Linked DNA regions of Homo sapiens. The protein of the gene in region 4 purifies or fractionates together with the protein of the main gene of each other region. This does not show direct contact. Each region holds a gene or a part of one and is shown on either strand. Other genes may lie near its edges. The genes, in order: CYP24A1, OAT, NFU1, THEM5, GTPBP10, CARHSP1 and KGD4.

Region 1 (3,500 bases), on a different chromosome or scaffold from region 4:
GTTAGTCAGGCGTGGTATCGCACGCCTGCAATACCAGCACTTTGGGAGGCTGAGGTAAGTGGATCACCTGAGGTCAGCAGTTCGAGACCAGCCTGGGCAACATGGTGAAACCCCATCTGTACTAAAAAACACAAAAATCAGCCAGGCATGGTGGTGTGCACCTGTAGTCCCAGCTGCTCAGGATGCTGAGGCAGGAGAATCGCTTGAACCCAGGAGGTGGAGGTTGCAGTGAGCCGAGATCACGCCGCTGCACTCCAGCCTGGGGCAGAGTGAGAGTCTGTCTCAAATAAGTAATTAAAAAAAGTTACTTATATTTATCTATTTATGGCAATATTTCTGACCTTGAATTTATGGAAGTGTTATAGGTTTTCCTTCTATCCCTCCCATCAGCAGCCACAGTGATCCTCCCAGTAAATCTGCCCATATATCACACTGCTGCTGAATACATTCCCGCAGCTCCCGGTTACTTACAGGCTAAAATTCAAACTCCCGCTCATACAGCCCTCCATGAGCTGGCTGCTGGCCCTCTGCCAGCCTCTGTTACAGGATATGCTTGTCATTCCGCACTTCTTCTGCAGGGACACTCTCCTTCCTCCCTTTTCACCTGGTGAACTCCTACTCAACCATCAGGACTTAGCTGAGGGGCACCATCTCTGTGAAGCGACCCCTGGCCATGTCCGGCTTAGGTGGCCCTCTCAGATTCTCCCACAGCCCTGAATGTCCTCAGCCAGGCGCTGTCCCACCTGATCACAGCTGCCTGCTCTCCTCTTGCACCCCCATGGGCAGTGAGCTCTGCCCTTTATTTCCAGAGTAATCTTTGAAGAAAGCGGTCATGTCCTCCCTCCCTTACTTGCCCCATCTGAGTCAGATGAGAGGTAAAGTCTTGCCAGGACCTATGAGCTGTGCCCTGTTGGACACCTGCCTTCTTTTTGACCTCATCTCCTTTCACAGGCTCCCCTTCCTCCCAGCTTGTTCATCGTGATCCACTCACACCAGCAGCTTGAAGTTCCTCAAACTCGGCGCTCATGCTTCCACCTCCTGGCATTTGCACTTTCTTCTCTGCTGCCTGGAACAATCCTCCACAGGTACCCTCATGATTTGCTCCTTCCCTTCCTTTAGGACTTACCTCAAATGTCTTCTTACTAAAAAAGACTTGCCCCTCTTTCATTCTTTCATGTTATTTCTTTCTCTCTCTCTCTTTTCTTCTTTATTTCTTTTCTTTTTTCTTTCCTTTCTCTTTTTCTTTTCCTTCCCTCCTTCCTTCCTTCCTTCTCTCCCTCCTTCCTTCCTTCCCTCCCTCCCTTCTGCCTTCCCTCCCTCCCTCCCTCCCTCCTTCCTTCCTTCCCTCCCTCCCTCCCTTCTTCCTTCCTTCCTTCCTTCCTTCCTTCCTTCCTTCCTTCCTTCCTTTCTCTGTCTCTCTCTCTTTCTTGAGACGGGGTCTCACACTGTCACCCAGACTGCAATGCAGTGGTACAATCACGGCTCACTTTAGCTTCAGCGTCCCGGGGTCAAGCAATCCTCCCACCTCAGCCTCCCAAGTAGATGGGACTACAGGCATGTGCCACCAACCCTGACTAATTTTTGTATTTTTTGTAGAGACAAGGTTTTGCTGTGTTGCCCAAGCTGTTCTCAGATTCCTGGGCTGGCCTCAAGCGATCTGCCCACCTCAGCCTCCCAAAGTCCTGGGATTATAGGCATGTGCCACCATGCCTGCCTTTCATGTTCTTTCTTAACTCCCTTTCTCTTTTCCTTTACTCCTTGGAAGAGTATATTTTAAAATGTGTTTACTTGTTGACTGTCACCTTGTCTAGCATATAAGCTCCCCAAGGGTACAGGGGTTATGCGTTTCATTCATTGTCATATCCCTAGTACCTAGCACAGTGCCAGACACACAGCAAGTATTCAACAAATGTTTGTTGTATGACTCATTAACAATCCATAGTTCAAGGCATAACTTAAGCACCTAAAAGAAGCATTAAAAGGGCTGCTCTGGCCTTTCCCTAGGCAGCAATAATGCCTGTTTACAAAAGAGTTGTCAAAAGAGCCATGTTTTATCCGCAAAATCACCTGCAAAATCAGTGAGCAAGTCTGTGACGACAACTTACTTTCAAACGACCATTTGTTCAGTTCGCTGTACAAGTCTTCAACGTGGCCTCTTTCATCACAGAGCTCATCTATTCTGCCCATAAAATCGGCCAAGACCTTCAAAGAAAACAACCGCAAAAGACACATTTTAAAGCCGTTGAAGGAAAACAAAACTTTAAAGCTCACTGAGCTAACTTCAGGTCTTGCTACATCGCATATTCACTGGCCATAATGTTATTCATCCTGAAGTCACACTAATTATATATTCTCCCTGGGAACCCACCTTATCCCCTAATGACCTCGTCCTGGGTTATTTCCTGAGCTTTTCCTGAAGCCACCCTGAAGCTTAAGTTTCAGCTTTTGATCTAAAAATAATTCTGGCAATTTAAGAAAAGGAAAACATTTTTTTTTTCTAATCAGAATGGGGGAATAAAACCACAAAGGAATCAGCTAACTGTCCCTGTTGGCCCAGCATCTCAAGGATTGTGTTGCAGCAGCTATCCTGAGGTGTGCCCTTCCACATCTGGGCAAGCAAACGTCTCTTTATTGGTTGGTGGTTATGTTAAGCATGTTGAACTTGGAACCAGAAGATCTACCAATTCTGGACACAGCTCCTTCCCTAAGTAGTCTATGACCTTGGGATAGTCACATAAGACCTTTGGATGCCAGTTTCATAAACCAGAGTTTTCAATAACTAATGCCTCACATTTAATGAGGTCCATATGGTACCAAACACTGTACGAAGTGTATTGGTTGATCCTCTGACAACCAAGTAGTAGTAGGTACCGTCTCTACTCATTTCCCATGTAGTAGATGAGAAAGCTGAGGCTTAAAGAGGCCAAGTCACTCACTTATGCACACAGAGCTGATAAGTTGCCATCCTGGACCCTGCCGTGAGCTGGTGTGGCCATACAGCCCACATGTGTGGATTTAGTTTGCAAGTTTAATTTGCCCGCATAGCGCATTTAAAAGTTCTTTGAATTTGTTACCATTAAAAAAAACAAGAGGTTTCATATGAACATATGGATTTACCACTACTAGTTTAAAAATGTAAATAATAATTATGAGACTTGGTGACATGAGGTCTGCATTCTGACATGGCATTCGTTTGCTGGAACTGGGGCTGCTGTCCCTCCTGGGAGGGGCATGCACTATCACGTTTCCTGAAATTTTTACTGGGTCTGCCTTATTATTTTATATTAGTCATGTGAGCCCTGGAAGCTTCTGAGTTTGCAATCCTTCACCTATATGATCCCATCTGGGGACGCATCCAGTTCAAAATAAACATCCAAAGTGAACAGAAGTAAAAAGAGATTACTTTATGCTTAAAACTCCCTTTGACTCCGTGCTGGCTAAGGGATAATGTCCAAATACCTTAGTATAATACAAAAATATTGTTAAGACCTATCCAGTAT
Region 2 (3,500 bases), on a different chromosome or scaffold from region 4:
CATCATAGTGCTCAGCTCATTGGGAATAGAAATTAAAGCTGTTGAATATATGAATTAAAAGTACATTATATGACAGTAATGCAAATTTATCTCACTTAAGTTAAGCCACGATTTCAGACTTGTTCTCAGTAGCGATCAATTAGTTTCCAACACAGAGAAAGCTGAGTTCTGTGATCTACTCTGTACAGCCAGCCAACTACTTTAGATGTGTGTCCTTCATAACAGTTAACTTCGGTATACCTGCTTACTTACTAGGTAAAATTTCTGTTTTTAGCTAGCTTTTTAAAATTATGAAGTGGAAGACTTTTTAAGAAAGCCTTAAGTTGGCTTTAAAAGGCTATTTACTTTAGATTTAATTTAAGTAATTAATTTCTTTTTTTGAGACAGAGTCTCACTCTGTCACCTAGGCTGGAGCGCAGTGGCACAATCTCGTCTCACTGCAAACTCCGCTTCCTGGGTTCAAGTGATCCTCCTGCCTCAGCCTCCCAAGTAGCTGGAACCACAGGCACACACCACCACACCCAACTAACTTTTCTATTTTCTTTAGAGACATGGTTTCGCCACGTTGGCCAGGCTGGTCTCGAACACTTGACCTCAAGTGATCTGCCCACCTTGGCCTCCCAAGGTGCTGGGGTGACAGGCATGAGCCACTGTGCCCAGCCAGATTTAATTTAGGTACATTTGTGTATTAGAAAACAGGCTGGGCATGGTGGTACATGCCTGTAATCCCAGTGCTTTGGGAGGCCAGGGCTGGAGGAGCACTTTGTGTTCAGGAGTTCAAGACCAGCCTGGGCAGCATAGGGAGAGCCTGTCTCTACAAAAAAATTTAAAAATCAAGGTCAGGCGCGGTGACTCACGCCTGTAATCGCAGCACTTTGGGAGGCCGAGGCAGGCAGATTGCTTGAGGTCAGGAGTCGAGACCAGCCTGGCCAACAGTGAAACCAGAGACAGTGGTGAAACCCTGTCTCTACTAAAAATACAAAAAAAAATTAGCTGGGCGTGGTGCTGTGCGCCTGTAATCCCAGCTACTTGGGAGGCTGAGGCAGGAGAATTGCTGGAACCCAGGAGGCAGAGGCTGCAGTAAGCCAAGATCGTGCCACTGCACTCCAGCCTGGGTGACAGAGTGAGACTCCATCTCCAAAAAAAAAAAAATGAAAATAAATAAAAAATTAGCTGGGCATGGTGCGCAGCTACTTGGCAGGCTGAGGCAGGAGGATCACCTTGAGCCCAGGAGTTCGAGACTTTAGTGGGCCATGTTTGTGCTGCTATACTCCAGCCTGGGCAACAGAATGAGGCAAAAAAGGAAATGTAGGCTAGTGTAACTTAAAGGTGAGGTATTTGGAGCTTCTGATAATTGAATGGCAGTGAATTTGAAGTCAGAATTTACGTTAGTGCGAAAACTTGATTTGCATACTTAATGTAAAATATGTGTGGTATATGCTTTCAGATTTCCAAGTGTGGTAGAAAGGAAGTTATTAAAACTTATTCCTGTTTCTTCTGTAGCGTGCTCTTCAGGATCCAAATGTGGCTGCGTTCATGGTAGAACCAATTCAGGGTGAAGCAGGCGTTGTTGTTCCGGATCCAGGTTACCTAATGGGAGTGCGAGAGCTCTGCACCAGGCACCAGGTTGTCACGTTAGCTGTTTGTGATAAGGCTGAATGTCGAGTTAGCTGTTTGTGATGAGGCTGAATGGGCTCCTCCCCAACTCCTCTCTGAATTCTGCTGATTGGATAAATGCAAAGATTAAATTACTTTCCACTAGAGGGCGATGGCATTCTAAGAGCTTAAGTACTTCCTAGTGCTTAGAAACCTGCACAGAAGCAGACTTTTTCCTGTCTCTGGCCTTGTCCTGGGCCCTGTGCAGAACTGCAGACCTGGTCTTAACAGCGTTTCCTTCCTCGCTGCTCTAAGAGCCTTTCACTCTGAGCCCCCGCAAGCCCTTTGTTGTATTCTCTCCTCCTTTCCCCCAGGGCTAATAGTAGTATATTTTGTTTACCATTTGAGAGTTTCTGTCACATATTAAATGCTTGTGGAATAAACAAATGAATTAATTTGTTCCCAGAGGGTAGTTAGGTCCAGAAAAGCCATACAAAACCCTCACCTTTGCATCAGCACCTTTTCACTATGTAGAGCAGGGCAGAATGGGCCTCTAGGGAGATAGTGGCCTGACAAAGGAAATAGTTGGTGAGTCTACAAGATTCTTATAGGATACTCTTGAAATTGTGTGCAGTTAAAACATTTTTACAAATTTGAGGGCACATCAGAATTACACATTTATTGTTGGTGGGGGGACAGTGAAATAAGGATGGCTATTTTCCCTGTGGAAACGAAAGTGATCACTAATAGGGGTATTTTTTTTCCCCAATAGGTTCTCTTTATTGCTGATGAAATACAGACAGGATTGGCCAGAACTGGTAGATGGCTGGCTGTTGATTATGAAAATGTCAGACCTGATATAGTCCTCCTTGGAAAGGCCCTTTCTGGGGGCTTATACCCTGTAAGTTTCATGTTCCCCCTCTTTCCATTTCCTACTCTTGTAAAATATACCCCTAAAGTATTTATACATCAACTGATTGTGACAACAATGCTTTCAGATTGTTTGATTTTACCAAGTGTGCTGCAGGCCACCCGGAATATCTGTAATAAAAACATTTAAGGGACCAGTGTGTGACCCACTTACTTATTGCCTGAAGAATTGAGTGTGCCTTGGAATTTGCTATGACATTGGATTTGGGTGGAAACAGTTTACCCCCAAAGGACTCCTGTAGACTCCTGTCCTTTTTTCCAGTGTTCAGAAACATGGCATATTACTAATTGTTTAAAACCATGACTGGTGAACAAAGAGACTGAGAAAAATTAATGTTTGTTGTAGTTCATGTCTTGGGTTTGCCTTTCAGAGCCAGTAATTGTTACTACATCAGAGGTCTCTGAAGTATAGATGTTTTTGCTGAATAGACAAAACTTTTGCTAAAAAGAATGCTCAGCTTTGTTTTTTAAGCATTTAAACAAAGCATTTCATCTCGACGTTGGAAGTGATTGTGAAATTATATCATTGCAGAAATAGCTTTTCTCTTTTAGTTGCAAAATTATATTGTTTTGTGCCATTGAAGTGTACCTAAAGTATTTGTAATGTTTTAGGGTATGACTAAGTCATTAGGTTGTTACTGGTAGTTAGGTTGGCAGATGTAAACTCTTTCGTTGAAGTCATTAAGTATCAGTTTCTTGGCCGGGTGTGGTGGCTTATGCCTGCAATCCCAGCACTTTGGGAGGCCGAGGCAGGCAGATCACCTGAGGTCATGAGTTCGAGACCAGCCTGGCCAACATGGTGAAACTATATCTCTACTAAAACTACAAAATAAATAAATAAATAAATAACATGTGTGGTGTGGTGGTGGGCACCTGTAATCCTAGCTACTTGGGAGGCTGAGGCAGGAGAATTGCTTGAGTCCAGGAGGCAGAGATTGCAGTGAGCTGAGATCACGCCACTGCACTCAAGCCTG
Region 3 (3,500 bases), on a different chromosome or scaffold from region 4:
ATGTACTATCTCTATATTGTTTCCTTTTTTTGTTTTTTGAGATGGAGTCTCACTCCGTCGCCCAGGCTGGAGGGCAGTGGCACGATCTCGGCTCACTGCAACCTCCGCCTCCCGGGTTCAAGCGATTCTCCTTCCTTGGCCTCCCTAGTAGCTGGGATTACAGGCCTCTGCAACCACGCCGGCTAATTTTTGTATTATTAGTAGAGAAAGGTTTTCACCATGTTGGCCAGGCTGGTCTCAAACTCCTGACCTCAGGTGATCCACCCGCCTCGGCCTCCCCAAAGTGCTGGGATTACAGGCATGAGCCACCATGCCCAGCCAAATTTCTTTCATACCCTTTAAGTAATATATATAAGTAAATTTTTTGAATAGTTGTAGGCTGTTCCGTATACTTGATCAAGCAATTACATCCTATGTTTTTTTTAAGAGAATGGGAATCTCTTTATCATCTTCTTTAAAGACAGAAAATCCATTTAATATTTTGTCTTCACATCATGAAAAACATCTTTTAATCATTTAAATCAAATTAAAACAATGAAAGTGAATGAATTAATAATAATATTATTACTAATATATTAATAATTATATTTAAATTAATTAAATATTAATTTTTATTAATTATAAATTATAATTATATTATTAATAATAATAAGTGAATGAATTAATGAATGGGGGATCTTTAAGATTTTATCTTCTGAAATTCGTTTAAACAGGACCCTTTAAGATGTGGAGCTAATATATATTCTCCAGAAGTGGTTGCCATTGCATAGGTATAGTGTGTATATAGGAAAAGATATTTTTTCTTTTCCTTTCCTTTCCTCTTTTCTTTTCTTTTTATCTCTTTTCTTTTCCTTTCCCTTTTACCTTCCTCTCTTCGCCTGCCTGCTTGCCTTCCTTCCTCCTTTCCTTTTTTCTGCTGCTTTTTTCTCTTTTTTCTTTCTTCCTTTCCCTTTATTATTTTTAAAAATATAAAAAGAGACGAAGTCTCGCTATGTTGCCCAGGCTAGTCTTAAACTCCTGGACTCAAGCAATCCTCTTGCCTCAGCTTCCCAAAATGTTGGGATTAGGCATGAACTACCACACCTGACCAGGAAAAGCTTCTTAAGAGGTGTAAGGGGGCCAGGCGCTGTGGCTCACGCCTGTAATCCCTGCACTTTGGGAGGCCGGGGTGGGTGGATCACGAGGTCAGGCTTCGACCTCTCAAAATGCTGGGATTACAGGCATGAACCACCGTGCCCAACCTTAAATATCTTGTGTTATACTGCAAATTGCCTTTTTTACTAAGTATAATAATTTTGAAATATATCCATTTCAAAAAACATAGTTCTAGTTTACTCATTTTACGTGCTGGAGAGTATTTCATTATAGGAATAAGATATAGTTAATTTGTTCCTTTATGTTCAAGGCACACACCTGTAGTCCCAGCTACTTGGGAGGCTGAGGCAGGAGAATCGCTTGAACCCAGGAGGCGGAGGTTGCAGTGAGCCAAGATCACACCACTGTACTCCATCCAGCCTGGGCAACAGAGTGAGACTCCATCTCAAAAAAAAAAAAGAAAAAAGAGGTATAAGGTAGTGTTCTGTATGGGTCTTTGCCGTTGCCTGGAAATACAGCATTTTCCTTTAAATGTTTATAGGAAAATGAAGAATTAGACTGGAATTTACTGAAACCAGATATTTATGCAACAATCATGGACTTCTTTGCATCTGGCTTACCCCTGGTTACTGAGGAAACACCTTCAGGAGAAGCAGGTAACATGTTGTATTGAGTAATTAAAATTTGTCCTTTTTTTAGACTTTTCTATTTTCTTCACATTTACCTTGATTTCAGAAGTCATAGGAATCTAGATTTCTATCATTTAATATATTTAGCTCTGCAAATTTATATATCATTTTGAAAGCTTGTGTATAAATTGGCATTACTCTATAAAACAAAAATTTTCAATTATAAAAATTTTCAAACATGCAGAAAATATCATGCTCACCAATTTGCCCTCCACTCATATCTAACAAATGTTAATTAAGTTACAGAATGGGCTTTTGGGAAAAACAAAACAAATGTTATCTTTTGCCACAGTTGCTTTAGACTCATTTTAAATAAAATATTAAACATACAGTGTCAGAATATAGAGCATAAAGTAAAAAAAAGAAACCGCTAAAACCACTGTACCCCCATCCCTTTTCCCTTCCTAGTTCCAGAGATGTGTGAAAACTTGTTTTGTTTTATACTATACATGTAAGTCTCTGCAGGGAATATATAAGACTAGTTTTTGTTTTTAAGTTTTAAATCTCTGTTTTTTTTTTTTTTTTTTTTTTTTAGAGACAGACTCTCACTCTGTCACCCCAGTTGGAGTGCAGTGACGCAATGTTGGCTCACTGCAACCCCCACCTCCCAGGTTCAAGTGTTTCTCATGCCTCAGCCTCCCAAGTAGCTGGGATTACAGGTGTGCACCACCACACCCAGCTAATTTTTGTATTTTTAGTAGAGATGGGGTTTCATCATGTTTGTCAGGCTGGTCTTGAATTCCTGACCTCAAGTGATCACCTGGCTTCAACCTCTCAAAATGCTGGGATTACAGGCATGAACCACCGTGCCTAACCTTAAATATCTTGTATTATACTGCAAATTGTCTTTTTTACTAAGTGTAATATTTTTGAAACATATCCATTTCAAAAAACATAGTTCTAGTTTACTCATTTTATGTGCTGGATAGCATTTCATTATAGGAATAAGATATAGTTAATTTGTTCCTTTATGTTCAAGTAAAGTTTTTGTACTAATTTTTATTGAAAACATTGCTGTAGTGAGCATCCTTATACAAGTCTGTTTATGAATATGTGGAGAGCTTCTTTATTTATTTGTTTATTTATTTTTATTTATTTATTTTTGGAGACAGAGTCTTGCTCTGTTGCCCAGGCTGGAGTGCAGTGGCGTGATCTCGGCTCACTGCAGCCTCTGCCTCCTGGGTTCCAGTGATTCTCCTGCCTCAGCCTTCCAAGTAGCTGGTATTACAGGCGCCCACCACCATGCCTGGGTAATTTTTGTATTTTTAGTAGAGACAGAGTTTAACCATGTTGGCCAGGCTGGTCTTGAACTCCAGACCTCATGATTCGCCTGCCTCGGCCTCCCAAAGTGCTGGGATTACAGGCATGAGCCATCGTGCCCGGCCTTATTTTTGAGACAGAGTCTTGCTCTGTCATCCAGGCTGGAGTGCAGTGGCATGATCTCAGTTCACTGCAGCCTCTGCTTCCCAGGTTCAAGCGATCCTTCTACCTCAGCCTCCCGAGTGGCTGGGATTACAGGCATGCACCACCACGCCCAGCTAGTTTTTGTATTTTTAGTAGAGGGGGTTTTGCCATGTTGGCCGGGCTGATCCCGAACTCCTGACCTCAAGTGGATTCACCTGCCTTGGCCTTCCAAAGTTGGGATTACAGGCGTGAGCCACCCTGCCTGGCCGAGAGCTTCTTTAGATTATGTTCCTAAAAGTGGAATTGCTATAT
Region 4 (3,981 bases):
GAGGCTGAAGCCTAGTGCCCCACACTCCCTTCCTCACCCCTTAGAGAAAGATAGAGACTCCAGGGCCAGCCTGGTGGGTGCTGAACCTGCCCTGCTGAGCCAAGCCCAGGAGGCAGCCAAGGTCCTACCAGTGACCTTACCCTGGGGGCCCCTCCAGGTAGGAGCCTGGTTGGAAAAGACAGACCGACTTCTTCTGGGTTGGCTGGAAAAAGATGACATACTCAAAGCCTTGTCCTTCCACTTGGATGCACCTGGTGAAGATGCGACAGTCACCTTTGTCTGGGGAGAGATAGGCAGTGTTGCAGCCGGAGAAGGGAGGGTATGGTCAGGATGCAGCACCATTTGGTTGAGTCTTGCCTCTGGTACAAGATTAAGGAGAGAAAACCAGAGGACACCAGGTCCACCCCCAGGGAGCCTTCCCTCTGGGAGCAGAGGCACAGTTGCTGTCCTCACAGAGCCTTTCTGTCTAGGGCAGAAACATGCAGGAAGTGCCCTGGCTGAGAATGGAGATAGGATCAGGGCCAGGGCAAGACTTTAAGAGACCATAAGCATTGAAAATTGAAAATGTAATTACTCATGTAACTCACATATAATTCAAAAGAATAATAGTAAACAGTAAAATAAGAGCAGAAAAGTCCATCAAAGTTCTGATTTTTTTTTTCCAAGACAGCTACCACTACTACATCCTTTTTTGGAAGTATCAAATTCTTTGAAAAAAAATTATGTTGGTATTCCTGCTTTGTTTGTGCCATAAACCCAAGGGTAGTCTGTCCCCTGTACCACTCCTTCATCACTAGGCAGGAAGACAACATATATGAGTGAGAGAGACAGGGAGATACACATGCGTGCACACACGAGTGCACACACACACACAAGAAGGTGGAAGCTCTATCATTAGGATCCATTAGGATCATTAGGTGTTTCAGGAGTGCTGCTCCAGACCCCGCACAGCAGGGATGATGTGCAGGGCCTCAGTGGAAGGGGTGTGGGGTCCAAGGGCTTTCATGGGGTTGGGGCGGAAGGCTTGGGATGAGGCTTGATAGTTAGGGAGGGGCAGTCAGTGAGAAGTCGGGGCAGGAGCTGGGCTGGCTGTCCTCCAGTGGGGACATGCTTGGCTGGGAGCGAAGGTGGGCCCACCAGGGTGTGCTGCTTCAGATGGGAGGAGGGGAGCTGGAGACCTGAGAGGACACCCGCCGCCTGTTGCCTGGGGCTGCAGCATCAGGGGTGGAGTTGGACAGCAGGAAGAACTCGCTGAGAACTGGAAGGCGGTCTGTGAAGTTGCTTCTCAGTCTTAGAACACAGGGAAGGGCGGCTGGGGTGTGTGTACTCATGGTCCTGTCCTTACCTGAGGAAACTGCCAGTCCAGATGGGAGCTTGAGTCCCCGGATGTGGTCTCTGTTGGACTTGAAGGAGGGCAGCTTGATCCAGCCGCTAGACTTAGTCTTCTCCAGAAATTCTTGGTACAGGCTCAGCATGTCCGAACACCAGCTGGCATTGGGAAGAGCATAATCCTTCAAGTCTGTCTTCTCTGGCAAGAATCTTGAGAACTGGGCAGGAAAAATCAGAATGACTAGACAGCATCCTGGAGGGGGGCTGCTGCCTGGGCTCGGGACCTCTAAACAGCTGTTCCTGGGTGCTGGGGCTTCTCAATCCCTTCTGCCAGAGTATCGATCCAAGGGAAAGGGCCCATATTCCTTGCAGGGGGGCTGCGGACCCCTATGGGTGACGGGGCATAAGGATGCTAAAGAGCAAGGGAAGGGCGGGCAGGGAGTGGGGCCAGAGATGATGGGCATGCTGCTCGATGTGGTGCCTTACCCTTGTTCTGCTTAAAACATGTGAGCAGTTCTTTAAAGTTGACAACTGCTCATATTAGCCTCACTGTACAGATGGGGAAACTGAGGGAATACGGCCAAGGTTGCCAAGCATGTGACTGTGAGAGCTGGTGGTCGCACTAGATGCTGTCTCCTCTGCAGGGCAGGGTCACAGTTGTTGAGGACCATTCTAGCAACCCCCACCTCAGGGGCTACTCCAGCTCTGCCCACTGCTGTGGGCCTGCCTGGGCAGGGTGGCTCCTTTGAAACACATTTGGGCCCCCACAGAGGTGTGGTGCCATGGCTGGGGCACAGACTATGTGCCCATCTGTGTGACGTAAGGAAGTCCTCTGTAGCGTCACCTGCTCATACACCAGTCACAACTGTAGACAGCATGTGAGCTGCTTGCCAATGCCACAGATGGGGTCCTCTGTCTGGGGATACCCCAGCTTTGCTGCAGTAGTCTGAGTCCCACAGGAGGAAAGTCATTTGTTGGTGGCCACACAAGACACAGAGCCAGATGCAGGTCTCCTGGTAGTTTTAGTTTTGAATGGGGGCAACTTGGTATCCCAGAGCACTTTCTCTTTGCCAAATCAAATAGCTCCTCCGAACACTGCCCACCTGCCCTGGCCATGGGCTGGGAAGAGGAGATTTGGGGTGCTCCTTAAGCCCTAGGCTCCTGGGAAAACACTGCCCATCTGGCTGAGCTGGGAACTCACCATGGAGTCTGTGGAGGATCCAAATGCTGAGGCAGGGTTGAGTCTGGGCAGGATACGGGGGGCCTCAAGAAGGCCTCTGTGGTGGCCAAGTCTTGCTGCCACCTGGAAGCATCTCCTTATCATGGCCAAGTGCAAGGATCCAGCCCTGCTTGGATGGAGGGTCTTGGCTGACTCCCAAGGAGTGCTTTCAGCTGCACTTGGGGCCGCTTCTCTCCCTTCTGTTGCAGGCTTTCTTTCAGAGAGCTAGGCGAGGCTGGGCTGGTGTGCTGCAACACCCACAGATGCTCGGCGCCTTTAGCTGGTCTAGGAGCCCCACCCAGTGCTTGGGGAGGGACAGATGCTGCTTGGGCATGAAAAGGCAGCAGGACTGGCTTGAGTTGCAAAAGGAGTAAACAAGTACATAAACAAATAGTATGGGGTATATAGAGCCTTGGAGAGCTGCCTGGGGGTTCTGAGGGAGAATCCAAGAATATTTCCAGAAGGATAAGGGAAGCCTGTCCCTTGATTGGAGGGTGCTGGTGGAGTGTTCTTGGTATGTGCTCTGCAGTGTATACCGGACTCTGAAAACTCTGGTATGATTTTGTGACTCAGAAAACCAACTCACAGGCCGGGTGCGGTGGCTCACGCCTGTAATCCCAGCACTTTGGGAGGCCGAGGCGGCGGATTACGAGGTTAGGAGATCGAGACCATCCTGGCTAACACGGTGAAACCCCGTCTCTACTAAAAAAAATACAAAAAATTAGCCGGGCGTGGTGGCGGGTGCCGGTAGTCCCAGCTACGCAGGGGGCTGAGGCAGGAGAATGGCGTGAACCTGGGAGGTGGAGCTTGCAGTGAGCTGAGATCTAGCCACCGCACTCCAGCCTGGGCGACTGAGCGAGACTCCGTCTCAAAAAAATAAAAATAAAAAAATAAAAAAAAAGAAAACCAACTCACAGCCTTAGACACCTCTTTTTTTTTTTTTTTTTTTTTTTTGGTGAGACGGAGTTTCAATCTTGTCGCCCAGGCTGGTGTGCAATGGCGTGATCTCGGCTCACTGCAACCTCCGCCTCCTGGGTTCAAGTGATTCTCCTGCCTCAGCCTCCTGAGTAGCTGGGATTACAGACACACACCACCACACCCAGCTAAATTTTGTATATTTTTTTTAGTAGAGATGGGGTTTTGCCATGTTAGCCAGGCTGGTCTTGAACTCCTGACCTCAGGTGACCTCCCAAAGTGCTGGGATTACAGGCGTGAGCCACCGCACCCGGCCAACACCTCTTCTTATATCCCGGACAAGGGTTAGCACAGGAGAGTTTCACCTGCTGGTCTCTGGCTGGGGATAGGAGTTGGAGGTGGGGGAGGGCTTGACAGGGAGGGCAGAAAATAATTTGGGAGGAAACAGCTTGGCAGGGATACTCTCATGTTTTGGGAACCCCGTGCCCAGGGAGTGGCTCATGTCAGCAGGCAGTGCT
Region 5 (4,201 bases), on a different chromosome or scaffold from region 4:
TGTTAATATTCAACATTAAAGTAATCCACAGAGGGAAAATACAACTACTGCAGGTTAAATGACAACTACAGCTTTTCTGATTGGTGGTTGTAAGCAGAAGGTCCAGTAGCAGCAAAGTAATCAAGACGGGGTTTTCACATCATGTCTTTCCAAATAATCACTGTCCTAAGTGAGGAGTAGAAGACACTGTCACATTGAGGTATTAGTCAGTTTTCACAGTGCCATAAAGAACTGCGCAGACTGGGTAATTTATAAAGGAAAGAGGCTTAATTGATTCACAGTTCTACATGGCTGGGGAGGCCTTAGAAAACTTATAATCATGGCAAAAGGGGAAGCGGAAACAAGCACCTTCTTCACATGGCAAGCAGGAGAGAGAAGAAAGAAGGAGGAACTTCCAAACACTTATAAAACCGTCAGCTCTTGTGGGAACTCCCTATCAGGAGAGCGGCAGGAGAGAAACAGCCCTGCATGATCCAATCACTTCCCTACTTCCACAATGGGGATTACAAATGAAGATGAGATTTGGGTGGCGACACAGAGCCATATCGTATCAAAGTATGAAAGGTTTCTAGGATTTATTAGTTTGGGTTGTTAAGAGTTATACGGCTGGCAACGCTGTGCAGGGCCGTTTACTTCAGCTGCATACATTTTTTCGCTGCATGAGGGGTTGGGGAGAGCTACTCTCTTCTGGTCCTGAAAAGTAATCAAGAGAGAGAGGGATTTTTCACATCGTGTCTTAATTCTCACAAAGGCACGCTTCAAATGACGGATAAAAACCCGTCTTCCCGACTCCAAGAAGCTACTTTCTGACAGTTGTAAACAAGCTTCTTTCTCTTACTGCACAGGAGAGTCCTCTTACAGATCTCAGATCCTGACATTATTTTCAATAAAACTTTGTGCGGCCGCTAGTTTTAAATTCATGGTCTCCTGGAAGCTTTGGCTGGAGACTACTCAGCTCGTCACTGAACTAACGGCTTTTGGGGGTTCTTTTTTCCCAGTTGAGTTTCTGTGTCTTTTACACGTTTGGTTTTATGGTCCGTTGGAGGTTTTTTCACGCTGAGGGTGAAGATTCTTAGTTTCCTCAATTAGCATAAAAGCTGCTCCAAGGCTGCTGAGTCTTCAGTTCCATTCCATTCAAAATGTTAATTCCTGAGACACGCAACCTACGCCCTACTGTCCTTTGTCCCACGGCTTCTCGAGATTATCTCTGTGTTTTAATAGATAAAACGCCTTCTCTCCCCACCCGTGGGGTGCAAAGCACAGCGCATGGGGCTGGTGGCGCCCGAGAGCATCACACAACGCATGCGCCAGTCCGCAGGTGTGGGCGGAGGAGAAATCGCGTCGGCGGCAGGGGATGACGTAAAAAGGCCGCGCTGTACTGCGGCTTGTGCCGCTTCCGCAAGAAGGTTTCCTGGCCTGTTGCAGCCATGGTGCATTGCAGTTGCGTGTTGTTCAGAAAGGTCCGTGCGGGTCCCCTCAGCCTGGTCCCCTTAGCGCTGACAGCTCTGGTTCTTCTTTGCTCCCCTGTCTCTCCACTACTGTCTTCGTGGCGGCCTTTTCCTTGCTTGGTTTTCCCATAGACTTCTCCGCCCCTCCTGTAGTGGCGCTTTGTCAGTAAGCGGTGACAGTGGTGTGTGTACCTGGCGTGGTTTGGACGGTTGTTTGGGGGCAGGGGCAGGGTTTGAAGTTCTTTAGAGACATAGTGTGCACGTGGTATGAGGAACTGGGATACCTGCCTGCTGTGGCCCAAATGTTGTGGTGGTTTTTTTTCCTTTAATGTCCACAGCCTGTTTTTATATATTTCTCCTTGAGTGCGCTGTTTAAGGTTTTTCTAATGGATTTTTATGAAGACACGAAAGCGTGTAATTGATGTGCCTTCCTGCAGAACATTTAGGTCGATTTTTGTGTGGTGTCGGTCTTAAGAATCGTTTCCGTAAAAATTTACAACTGCTTTGAATTTTTATTTTTTAAATCTTATCCTATCAGTAATGCTTTTTGAAACGTTGCCTGCGTCATATTTGGCCATTACTTTATTTCTAACGACCAGAGTAAAATACTCCTTTTAAGTAAGGCTCCTAAACCCCTGAATCTGATTAATCTAGAGCAGGAAAAAAGTGTTACATATTTAATGGAACTGTAGAAACTCTCCTCGAGTATATCAGAATGGTCAATATTTCAACTTTCTTGAAAAAAAAATCCCATTTGTTTTTTATAATAGCTATCCTAAATGACTAGAGATGTGGATTATGAATTTAAGAAATTACTCCTTAAGTTATTTTGATTTTAATAGCCTAAGAGGTTAATACGTAAGTCCTTTACCTACAAGAAGTTCTTGATTTAGTGAAGGAAACAGGTAAACACTAAATGCAGCGTGAGATTTATAAAGGTGTAATAATAGAGATATAATCAAATTGCTGGGAGAGCCAGCAAAGTCAGAGAATTGATTAGAGGAATTTGGAAAGACGTTAGAAAATATGACGTTTAGGTGGATTTATGATAGGAAAAACAAATGACATTCTAAGTAGAGGAAAAGCATGAGCAGAATGGCATGTAGAAATGGCGGTATTTCATGTAGTACAGAGCAAAGAGGAAGAGAGGAAGGGTTGAGCAAGTGAAAAGGATACAGGAAGGAACTAGGCATGGTAGGTGAGCCTATTGTTCTTGCTACTTGGGAGGCTGAGGTGGGAGGATCCCTTAAGGCCAGGAGTTCAAGACCAGTCTGGGCAACATAGCAAGACCCCATCTTTAAAACAGTCGGGGTGGTGTGGTGCCTGTAGTCCCAGCCATTTGGGAGGCTGAAGTGGGAGAATTGCTTGAGCCCAGGAGTTTGAGGCTGCAGCAATGATAGTGCTATGATAGTGCCACGGCACTCGAGCCCAGGCACCAGAACCAGACCCTGTTTCAAAAAAAAGAAAATAAAAGATACCAGAAGGGTATTTTAGTAGCTTTGGATATACAGTTGACCCTTCAAGAACATGGGGGTTAGAGATGCCCCCGCCACAGCTGAAAATCTTCATGTAACTTTCAACTCCCCCCACAAAACAACTACTAATAATCTGTTGGCTGGAAGCCTCACTGATAACATAAGCCGTCAGTTGACACATATAAAATATATATATAGTATATACTGTATTCTTAAATTAAGCTAGAGAAAAGAAACAGTTACTAAGAAAGTCAGAAAGAAGGGAAAATATATTTACTGTTCATTAAATGGAAGTGAATTGTAAAGGTCTTCATCCTTATAGTCTTCATGTTGAATAGACTGAGGAGGAAGAGGAGGAGTTGGTCTTGCTCTCTTGGGTGGCAGAGGCAGAAGGGGTGGGGGTGGAGGAGGTGGAAGGGGAGGCAAGAGAGGCAGACACACTATGTGTAACTTTATGGAAGTACATCATAATTTCTGTCATGCTTTTGCTTTTCTCTTTCCCCCAAAAAAATGTTTCTATAGGGTACCAATACCTCTTCCACCATTTGCTTTGGTTTCAGTGCCTCTTCACAGAAGGGTCCATGTCATAAAAGAAGTCAAAAGCAGTCCTGAACAATAGGAGCTCTTCTGCCAGATTATCTAATGTTCGTTTTTCTGGTAGTTTATTCTGTGTTTTCTTCCTTGTTATCTGGCACTGGATCTGAAGCACTCATCAAGCTGTCTTCTGTTAATTCCTCTGGTTTGGTGGCTGTTAGCTCTTGAGTTTCTTCAAGATCCATATCTTGAAGTCCTTTACCCACTTTCCCGCCGTTTTTGGCATATTCACAGCCTCTTTCATGATTTCCTTGATTGGCTCTTTTGTAAATCCTGTGAAATTATAACACAACACAACACCTGGACAAAGTTTTCTCCAGCACGAACTTACTGTTTGGGGCTTATGGCTTTCATGGCTTTTTCAATAATAATGGCATCTTCAATTATGTAAACTTCAGATTTTCCTGAAGTTTTCTCTATTAGTGTTCTTTTCCATGGTTGACAATCCTTTTCGTAGAAAATCATGTTTAATGAGCCTTAAAGGTCCTTGCGACCCCGTGATCTAGAGGCTGATTTACAGACATTGTGTTTGGGGGCAAGGACACCACTTCAGTGCCTTTGATGTTGAACTCATGGGGTTCTGGGTAGCGGGGAGGTGGGGCACTGTCCATTAGCAGAGGAACTTTACAAGTCAGTCTCGTATTGGGAAGGTACTTCCTGACTTCAGGGAGAAAGCATCCATGG
Region 6 (3,280 bases), on a different chromosome or scaffold from region 4:
CTGGGCAGGGCTTTCCTGAGGTCCTCAGCACTGCAGCCCCTGGTTCCAGGAGTCTCAGAAACCGCACCGTGTCTTTGTTCTCAAATTCCCCAGTTTCCCAGCCTGCCTTTTTTTGAGACAGAGTCTTGTTCTGTTGCCCAGGCTGGAGTGCAGTGGTGTGATCTCAGCTTACTGCATCCACCTCCCGAGTTCAAGTGATTCTCCTGCCTCAGCCAAGTATCTGGGACTATAGGCACCACAGCCAGCTAATTTTTGTATTTTTAGCAAAGTCAGGGTTTCACCATGTTAGCCAGGCTGGTCTCAAACTCCTGACCTTAAGTGAGCCACCTGCCTCAGCCTCCGAAAGTGCTGGGATTACAAGCGTGAGCCACCACGCCTGGACTCCCGGTGAGCCTTCAAGAAGGTCCCTTTGGTGCATGAAGCTAGTTCCTGGAGGGGCCTCTCCCTGTGACCACCCCCAGGAAGGTTCCCTTACTTTCTAGGGGACATGAGTCACCCTCTCACATGAGACTGGCATCTTGATGTCCCCTTGATGAAACCCCCCCAGAGGAAAACCCCCTTCAGATGCTAAATGCAAGGGCCAGCCAGCTCCCCTAGTAACTGGTTTGTTTTGATTGGAGAATCGTATGGTGAAGAGTGTTTCCCTCTTTGATCTGGTCACGAGGGAGCTCAGAAATAAATCTGCAGCCTACTTCCAGCAGCAGAACCAGACATCACAATATTTCCATCTTCCTAAATATTTCTTTGCCCCAACCTCTATGTTTTCCTTACTGATTCAAAATCCTTTCTGGGACAAGGCAGTATGGAAATACCCTTACACATCCATGTATGCATGCATATGTGAAATGCGTCACCTTGGTATTCTCCTGCCTGCCGATCTGATAGGTAAGCATGGGGCGGGGGTGGGCAAAGGAGGGGTAACTCCCCCATTGCAGTGGGCTCCTCTTTTCAGAAATGTGGTTTCCGTGTTAGCGGGTATGCTGTGCAGAGTAGGACTCTGTCTGCCCCTGCCTGAAGTAAAAGACTTGGGGGTGCTTAGGCCAAAGAAGCAGGTAGGGACAAGGGTGCAGATCGAGGGTCCTCCCCTGTCTAAAGGCTGCCCAGAGGATCAGAGGTGAAGCATGGGGGGCTGGGTGCCTTCCAGCCCAGCCCTAGGATGTGTGCGCCCCACCCCCGGCTCCCCAAGGGTTTTCAGACACTCAGGAAGGAAGGACGTCAGTAAGCATGCAGGAGGAGAAAGACCCACCCCAAACTTCCTTCCTGGAGCAAAGGGGCAGGACAGCCCCCAGCCTCACCAGTCCACCTCCCCCAAAGGAGGGCAGGAAGCTGGACTGGTCCCCAGGCCAAACAGGGCTCCCCAGCCTCATGGGGTGTCCTTGGCCAGATATAATGGGCACTCGGACTCACCCCAGCAGTCCCTGCTGCTCACACACATGCACCATGCACAGCTGACACCACCCTGTCTCCCACAAGCATAGTCGGGCACCCCCAGATCCATTTCCATCACTTTCTGGCTATGTGATCTTGGGCAGATCTGTTTTTTTTTTTTTTTTTTTTTTTTTTTTTTTTTTTTGAGATGGAGTTTTGCTCTTGTTGCCCAGGCTGCAGTGCAATGGCGCGATCTCGGCTCACCATAACCTCCACCTCCTGGGTTCAAGTGATTCTCCTGCCTTAGCCTCCGAAGTAGCTGGGATTACAGGCACCCGCCATCATTCCCCGCTTTTTTTTTTTTTTTTTCTATTTTTTTGTATTTTTGTGATGACAGGATTTCACCAGGCTGGTCTTGAAGTCCTGACCTCAGGTGATCCGCCTGCCTCCGCCTCCCAAAGTGCTGGGACTACAGGTGTGAGCCACCATGCCCGATCCTTTTTTTTTTTTTTGAAATGGACTTTCACCCTTGTCACTCAGGCTGGAGTGCAATGGCGAGATGTCGGCTCACTGCAACCTCTACCTCCTGGATTCAAGTGATTCTCCTGCCTCAGCCTTCCGAGGAGCCGGGATTACATGCACCTGTCACCACGCCCTGCTCATTATTTTTTTTTTTTTTTTTTTGAGATGGAGTCTTGCTCTTGTTGCCCAGGCTGGAGTGCAGTGGCGCAATCTCGGCTCATTGCAAACTCCGCCTCCCAGGTTCACACCATTCTCCTGCCTCAGCCTCCCGAGTAGCTGGGACTACAGGTGCCCGCCACCATGCCCGGCTAATTTTTTTTGTGTTTTTTTAGTAGAGACGGGATTTCACCATTAGCCAGAATGGTCTGGATCTCCTGACCTCGTGATCCACCCACCTCGGCCTCCCAAAGTGCTGGGATTACAGGCGTGAGCCACCACGCCCAGCACACACAAAACCTTACACACCCATTCACAAAGACACACCCAGGGACAATCACAAGTACCGTGTCGCCCCCAGCCTCACATCCCCCAACACAGCTCCGTAGAGTCTCACAACCCCAACCCAACACACACACAGGAGCACAGCTGGAGCACCAGCCACAGGCAGAGTCACACAGGCCCAGCCATTCGTCCTCACACCCAGCGCCCATCAGAGTCACACACCATCCCCACCTCCACAGGGCCAAGGAAGCGCCCACCCCAGCCAGGCCACCCAGACCTGCCGCTGACTCACTCAGAGATGTGCAGGAAGATGTCGGGGCCGCCATCAGCTGGAGTAATGAAGCCATGGCCCTTGGACCGGCAGAAGCATTTGCAGACTCCTTTGTAGACGGGGCCCTGTGAAGCCCGCACCGTCCTGACAGAGAGGGGGAAATGTCAGGGGCCCCATCAGCGCTCCTGGGCACACAAAGCTCATTCCAGCCCCTGCCCACAGCTGTGCCCCATCAAGCCCTGGCCAGGACCGCCATGTACAGTCACACAGGCTGAGGACTGCACAACCCTCAACCCTGGGAGCCGCTCACAAAGACGCTGGGGGAAAGGACTCTTTGGATGACCCTGGCCAATTTTCTCGGGCCTGTTTTCCCTCCTGGAAAGAGGGAGTTGAACTAAAACATCACTGAACATCCCTCCAGAAACTAATGATTTACTATTAATAACACAAGCATCCTCCACTCGCAAGGCCTGAGACCTGCATCTGCCAGGCATTATGTGGGTCCTTTGCAGCCCTGGTGCTGTGCCCATTTTGCAGCTGCAGAATTCACAGTCTCACAGGGAACCAGACTCTCATGTGTGGTTAAAGCCCAGCGATTCTGACCCCAGCAACTGCCCACCCATTGCCACTCCCAGCTGGTAACAGGTTCTTCTGGGCTGGGCAGTACCCTGAATTTAC
Region 7 (3,500 bases), on a different chromosome or scaffold from region 4:
GAAAAGAAAGAGAGATCAGATTGTTACTGTGTCTGTGTAGAAAGAAGTAGACACAGGAGACTCCATTTTGTTCTGTACTAAGAAAAATTCTTCTGCCTTGGGATGCTGTTAATCTATAACCTTACCCCCAACCCCGTGCTCTCTGAAACGTGCTGTGTCCACTCAGGGTTAAATGGATTAAGGGCGGTGCAAGATGTGCTTTGTTAAACAGATGCTTGAAGGCAGCATGCTCGTTAAGAGTCATCACCACTCCCTAATCTCAAGTACCCAGGGACGTAAACACTGCGGAAGGCCGCAGGGACCTCTGCCTAGGAAAACCAGAGACCTTTTTGTTCACGTGTTTATCTGCTGACCTTCTCTCCACTATTATCCTATGACCCTGCCACATCCCCCTCTCCGAGAAACACCCAAGAATGATCAATAAATACTAAAAAAAAAAAAAAAAATTAGCCAGGCAGGAGGGGTAGTGTGTGGGTGTGTACCTGTAGTCCTAGCTACTTAGGAGGCTGAGGTGGAAAGATCACTTGAGCCCAGGAGTTTGACGCTGCAGTGAACCACGATCACTCCACTGCACCCCAGCCTGTGTAACAGAGCAAGACCTGGTCTCAAAAAATAAATAATAAAGTAAAACATTTTCAGACTGGCTAACAAATGAAAATCCAGTGCTATGCTATTTATAAGAGGCATAGCTAAAACTAAGATTTGGAAAGGTAAAAATAAAGAGATAGTCAACTGATCTTTGACAAAACGAGCAAAGGGAATACAATGGAGAAAAGATAGTCTTTTCAACATGGTGCTGAAAAAATTGGATATCCATCTAGACACAGACCTCACGTTCTTCACAAACATTAACTCAAAATGGATCCTAGACCTAAATGCAAAATGCAAAACTATAAAACCCTTAGAATATAACATAGGAGAAAATAAAAATAACCTTAGGTTTAGGAATGACTTTTTAGATATAACACCAAAGGCATGATCCATGAAAAATTAATTGATAAGCTGGACTTCATTAAAATAAAAAATTCTGCTCTGTGAGACACTGTCAAAAAAAGGCAAGCCACATATTGGGAGAAAATACTTTCAAAAGACATATCTGATAAAAGACTATTATAGAAAACATAAGGCTGGGCACGGTGACTCATGCCTGTAATCCCAGCACTTTGGGAGACCAAGGCGGGCAGATCACCTGAGGTCAGGAGTTCGAGACCAGCCTGGCCAACATGGCAAAACCCCATATCTATTAAAAGTACATTTGTATAAGTATATAATACATATTTACATGCCTATACAGTTAGACCTAACTTACAAATGGTTTATTCACGTATTTGGCAACTGTTACTTGGGCATTTACCATGTAACAGGAATGCTACTGCAGAAGTGCTTAGTTTTCTGTCTCTGACTGTCCAGGAGCTTAGTGCTCTTCTATAATCATTGGCTAACTTATCTGTCCTCTGAAAACATAAGGAGAGTTTTTAACTCAGACTTTGGAATTTGGGAAAGGTTCTTAGAGAAGAGTGACATTTGAGCTGTTGTAAAGGATAAGCAGTCAGAAGGATAGGCATGGAAGTGGAATGGGATAGGAGGGAGATTTCATGGCAGAGGACGTAAGCTGTAGATGGAATGAGGATAAATAGGATGAATTGGGGAAAGGAAAAATACTTCAGAATACTTGGAGCAATGGGTACATAAGACAGTAGGGGAGAAAGGCTGGCAAAGTAGGGAGAGGCCAGATCACAATGGGTGTTGTGAGTGCCAAAGAAGAGTTTGAACTTTATCCTGAAAGCTGTGGAACATTTTTCAAACTTCTTTTTTTTCTTCTTTTAAGTTGTAGAGAGGGAGTCTCATCTTCTTGCTCAGGCTGGTCTCAAACTCCTGGGCTCAAGCCGTCTTCCCAAAGTGCTGGGATTACAGGCATGAGCCACTGACCTCAGCCAGTTTTCAAACTTCTAAATAGGGGAGTGATGATAGGATAGATAGAACATTCTCTTAAGAAGCTTGGCTATGAAAGTGAAGAAACAGTTAATAGAGAAGTTTTTTTTTTTGAGACAGAGCCTCTCTCTGTCACTCAGGCTGGAGTGCAGTGGCTCGATCTCGGACTTCCACTCCAGGGTTCAAGCAATTTTCTGCCTTAGCCTCCCGAGTAGCTGGGATTACAGGCGCCCACCACCACGCCCGGCTAATTTTTTTATTTTTTTAGTAGAGACAGGGTTTCACCGTCTTGGCCAGGCTGGTCTTGAATTCGTGACCTCATGATCCACCCGCCTTGGCCTCTCAAAGTGCTGGGATGACAGGCGTGAGTCACGGTGCGCAGCTTTTTTTTTTTTTTTTTTTTTTGAGACAAAGTCTTGCTCTTTCACCTAGGCTGGAGTGCAGTGGCACAATCTCGGCTCACTGCAACCTCTGCCTCCCAGGTTCAAGCGATTCTCCTGCCTCAGCCTCCCGAGTACCTGGGACTACAGGTGTGTGCCACCACGCCTGGCTACTTTTTTTGTATTTTTAGTAGAGACGGGGTTTCTCCGTGTTAGCCAGAATGGTCTCGATCTCCTGACCTCATGATCCACCCACCTCGGCCTCTCAAAGTGCTGGCATTACAGGTGTGAGCCACCATGCCCGGCCGAGAAGTTTTTTAGCATGGAAGACTTGAGCATGATTTTATGGTGAGGGAGAGAACACATTCCAGCATTTTCTCACAGCCACAGAATTACAGTGGTGAATTTTTAGGCCAATCCCATACCTATTTGCTTCTGTGCCCACATAAAATGCATAATATGTACTACAAATATATAAATATATTGCAGATAAACCCACCTCAGTCTTATTCGTTACATAGCAATTTATAGATTAGTTGAAAATAGTACTTTGTTCATTAGATTCTTAGCATTGTATATTCAGAAGATTTCATATTGACAGGTCCATTTAAGGTCCTCTGTACCACTATCTGGAATTTTACGGACAAAAATGTTAATACTTTTCAAACATCTGTTCCAAAAACAGTATTCCAAAAATATGTATTCCAGGCCAGGCATGGTGGCTCACGCCTGTAATCCCAGCACTTTGGGAGGCCGTTCGAAACCAGCCTGGCCAACATGGTGAAACCCTGTCTCTACTAAAAATATAAAAATTAGCCGGGTGTGGTGGCGGGCACCTGTAATCCCAGCTACTTGGGAGGCGGAGGCAGGAGAATCACTTGAACCCTTGAGGCGGAGGTTGCAGTGAGCCATGATTGCGGCACTGTACTCCAGTCTGAGTGACACAGCAAGACTCTGTCTAAAAAAAAAAAAAAAAAAGTATTCCTATGGGTATAGGAAAAAGACTAAAATAAAGTGCTATCAAATGTTTTAATTTGGGCCGGGCATGGTGGCCCATGCCTGTAATCCCAGCACTTTGGGAAGCCGAAGCAGGTGGATCATTTGAGGTCAGGAGTTCAAGACCAGCCTGGGTAAAATGGGGAAACTCCATATCTACTAAAAATACAAAAATTAGCGGGGTGTGGTGGC

What was found.
Region 1: the proteins of THEM5 (region 4) and CYP24A1 purify together in Homo sapiens (affinity purification with mass spectrometry; one large-scale study listed by BioGRID and IntAct). This does not show direct contact.
Region 2: the proteins of THEM5 (region 4) and OAT purify together in Homo sapiens (co-immunoprecipitation; one large-scale study listed by IntAct). This does not show direct contact.
Region 3: the proteins of THEM5 (region 4) and NFU1 purify together in Homo sapiens (co-immunoprecipitation; one large-scale study listed by IntAct). This does not show direct contact.
Region 5: the proteins of THEM5 (region 4) and GTPBP10 purify together in Homo sapiens (affinity purification with mass spectrometry; one large-scale study listed by BioGRID and IntAct). This does not show direct contact.
Region 6: the proteins of THEM5 (region 4) and CARHSP1 purify together in Homo sapiens (co-immunoprecipitation; one large-scale study listed by IntAct). This does not show direct contact.
Region 7: the proteins of THEM5 (region 4) and KGD4 purify together in Homo sapiens (affinity purification with mass spectrometry; one large-scale study listed by BioGRID and IntAct). This does not show direct contact.

Annotation. Positions count from the first base shown.
Region 1 is NC_000020.11:54,167,487-54,170,986, forward strand, and holds part of CYP24A1 (1,25-dihydroxyvitamin D(3) 24-hydroxylase, mitochondrial isoform 1 precursor), read right to left. Parts: intron 2,203-3,500; coding exon 2,106-2,202; intron 1-2,105.
Region 2 is NC_000010.11:124,401,924-124,405,423, reverse strand, and holds part of OAT (ornithine aminotransferase, mitochondrial isoform 1 precursor), read left to right. Parts: intron 1-1,503; coding exon 1,504-1,626; intron 1,627-2,368; coding exon 2,369-2,497; intron 2,498-3,500. UniProt on the Homo sapiens protein: Catalyzes the reversible interconversion of L-ornithine and 2-oxoglutarate to L-glutamate semialdehyde and L-glutamate.
Region 3 is NC_000002.12:69,413,436-69,416,935, reverse strand, and holds part of NFU1 (NFU1 iron-sulfur cluster scaffold homolog, mitochondrial), read left to right. Parts: intron 1-1,636; coding exon 1,637-1,751; intron 1,752-3,500. UniProt on the Homo sapiens protein: Iron-sulfur cluster scaffold protein which can assemble [4Fe-4S] clusters and deliver them to target proteins.
Region 4 is NC_000001.11:151,850,913-151,854,893, forward strand, and holds the start of THEM5 (acyl-coenzyme A thioesterase THEM5), read right to left. Parts: upstream 2,801-3,981; 5' UTR 2,654-2,800; coding exon 2,531-2,653; intron 1,548-2,530; coding exon 1,346-1,547; intron 624-1,345; exon of another isoform or gene 280-623; coding exon 141-279; exon of another isoform or gene 1-140. UniProt on the Homo sapiens protein: Has acyl-CoA thioesterase activity towards long-chain (C16 and C18) fatty acyl-CoA substrates, with a preference for linoleoyl-CoA and other unsaturated long-chain fatty acid-CoA esters.
Region 5 is NC_000007.14:90,345,315-90,349,515, forward strand, and holds the start of GTPBP10 (GTP-binding protein 10), read left to right. Parts: upstream 1-1,401; 5' UTR 1,402-1,427; coding exon 1,428-1,460; intron 1,461-4,201. UniProt on the Homo sapiens protein: May be involved in the ribosome maturation process. Complements an ObgE(CgtA) function in E.coli ribosome maturation. Plays a role of GTPase in vitro. When missing, disorganization of the nucleolar architecture is observed.
Region 6 is NC_000016.10:8,855,727-8,859,006, forward strand, and holds part of CARHSP1 (calcium-regulated heat-stable protein 1), read right to left. Parts: intron 2,747-3,280; coding exon 2,624-2,746; intron 1-2,623. UniProt on the Homo sapiens protein: Binds mRNA and regulates the stability of target mRNA. Binds single-stranded DNA (in vitro).
Region 7 is NC_000005.10:69,220,760-69,224,259, forward strand, and holds part of KGD4 (alpha-ketoglutarate dehydrogenase component 4), read left to right. Parts: intron 1-3,500. UniProt on the Homo sapiens protein: Molecular adapter that is necessary to form a stable 2-oxoglutarate dehydrogenase enzyme complex (OGDHC). Enables the specific recruitment of E3 subunit to E2 subunit in the 2-oxoglutarate dehydrogenase complex (OGDHC).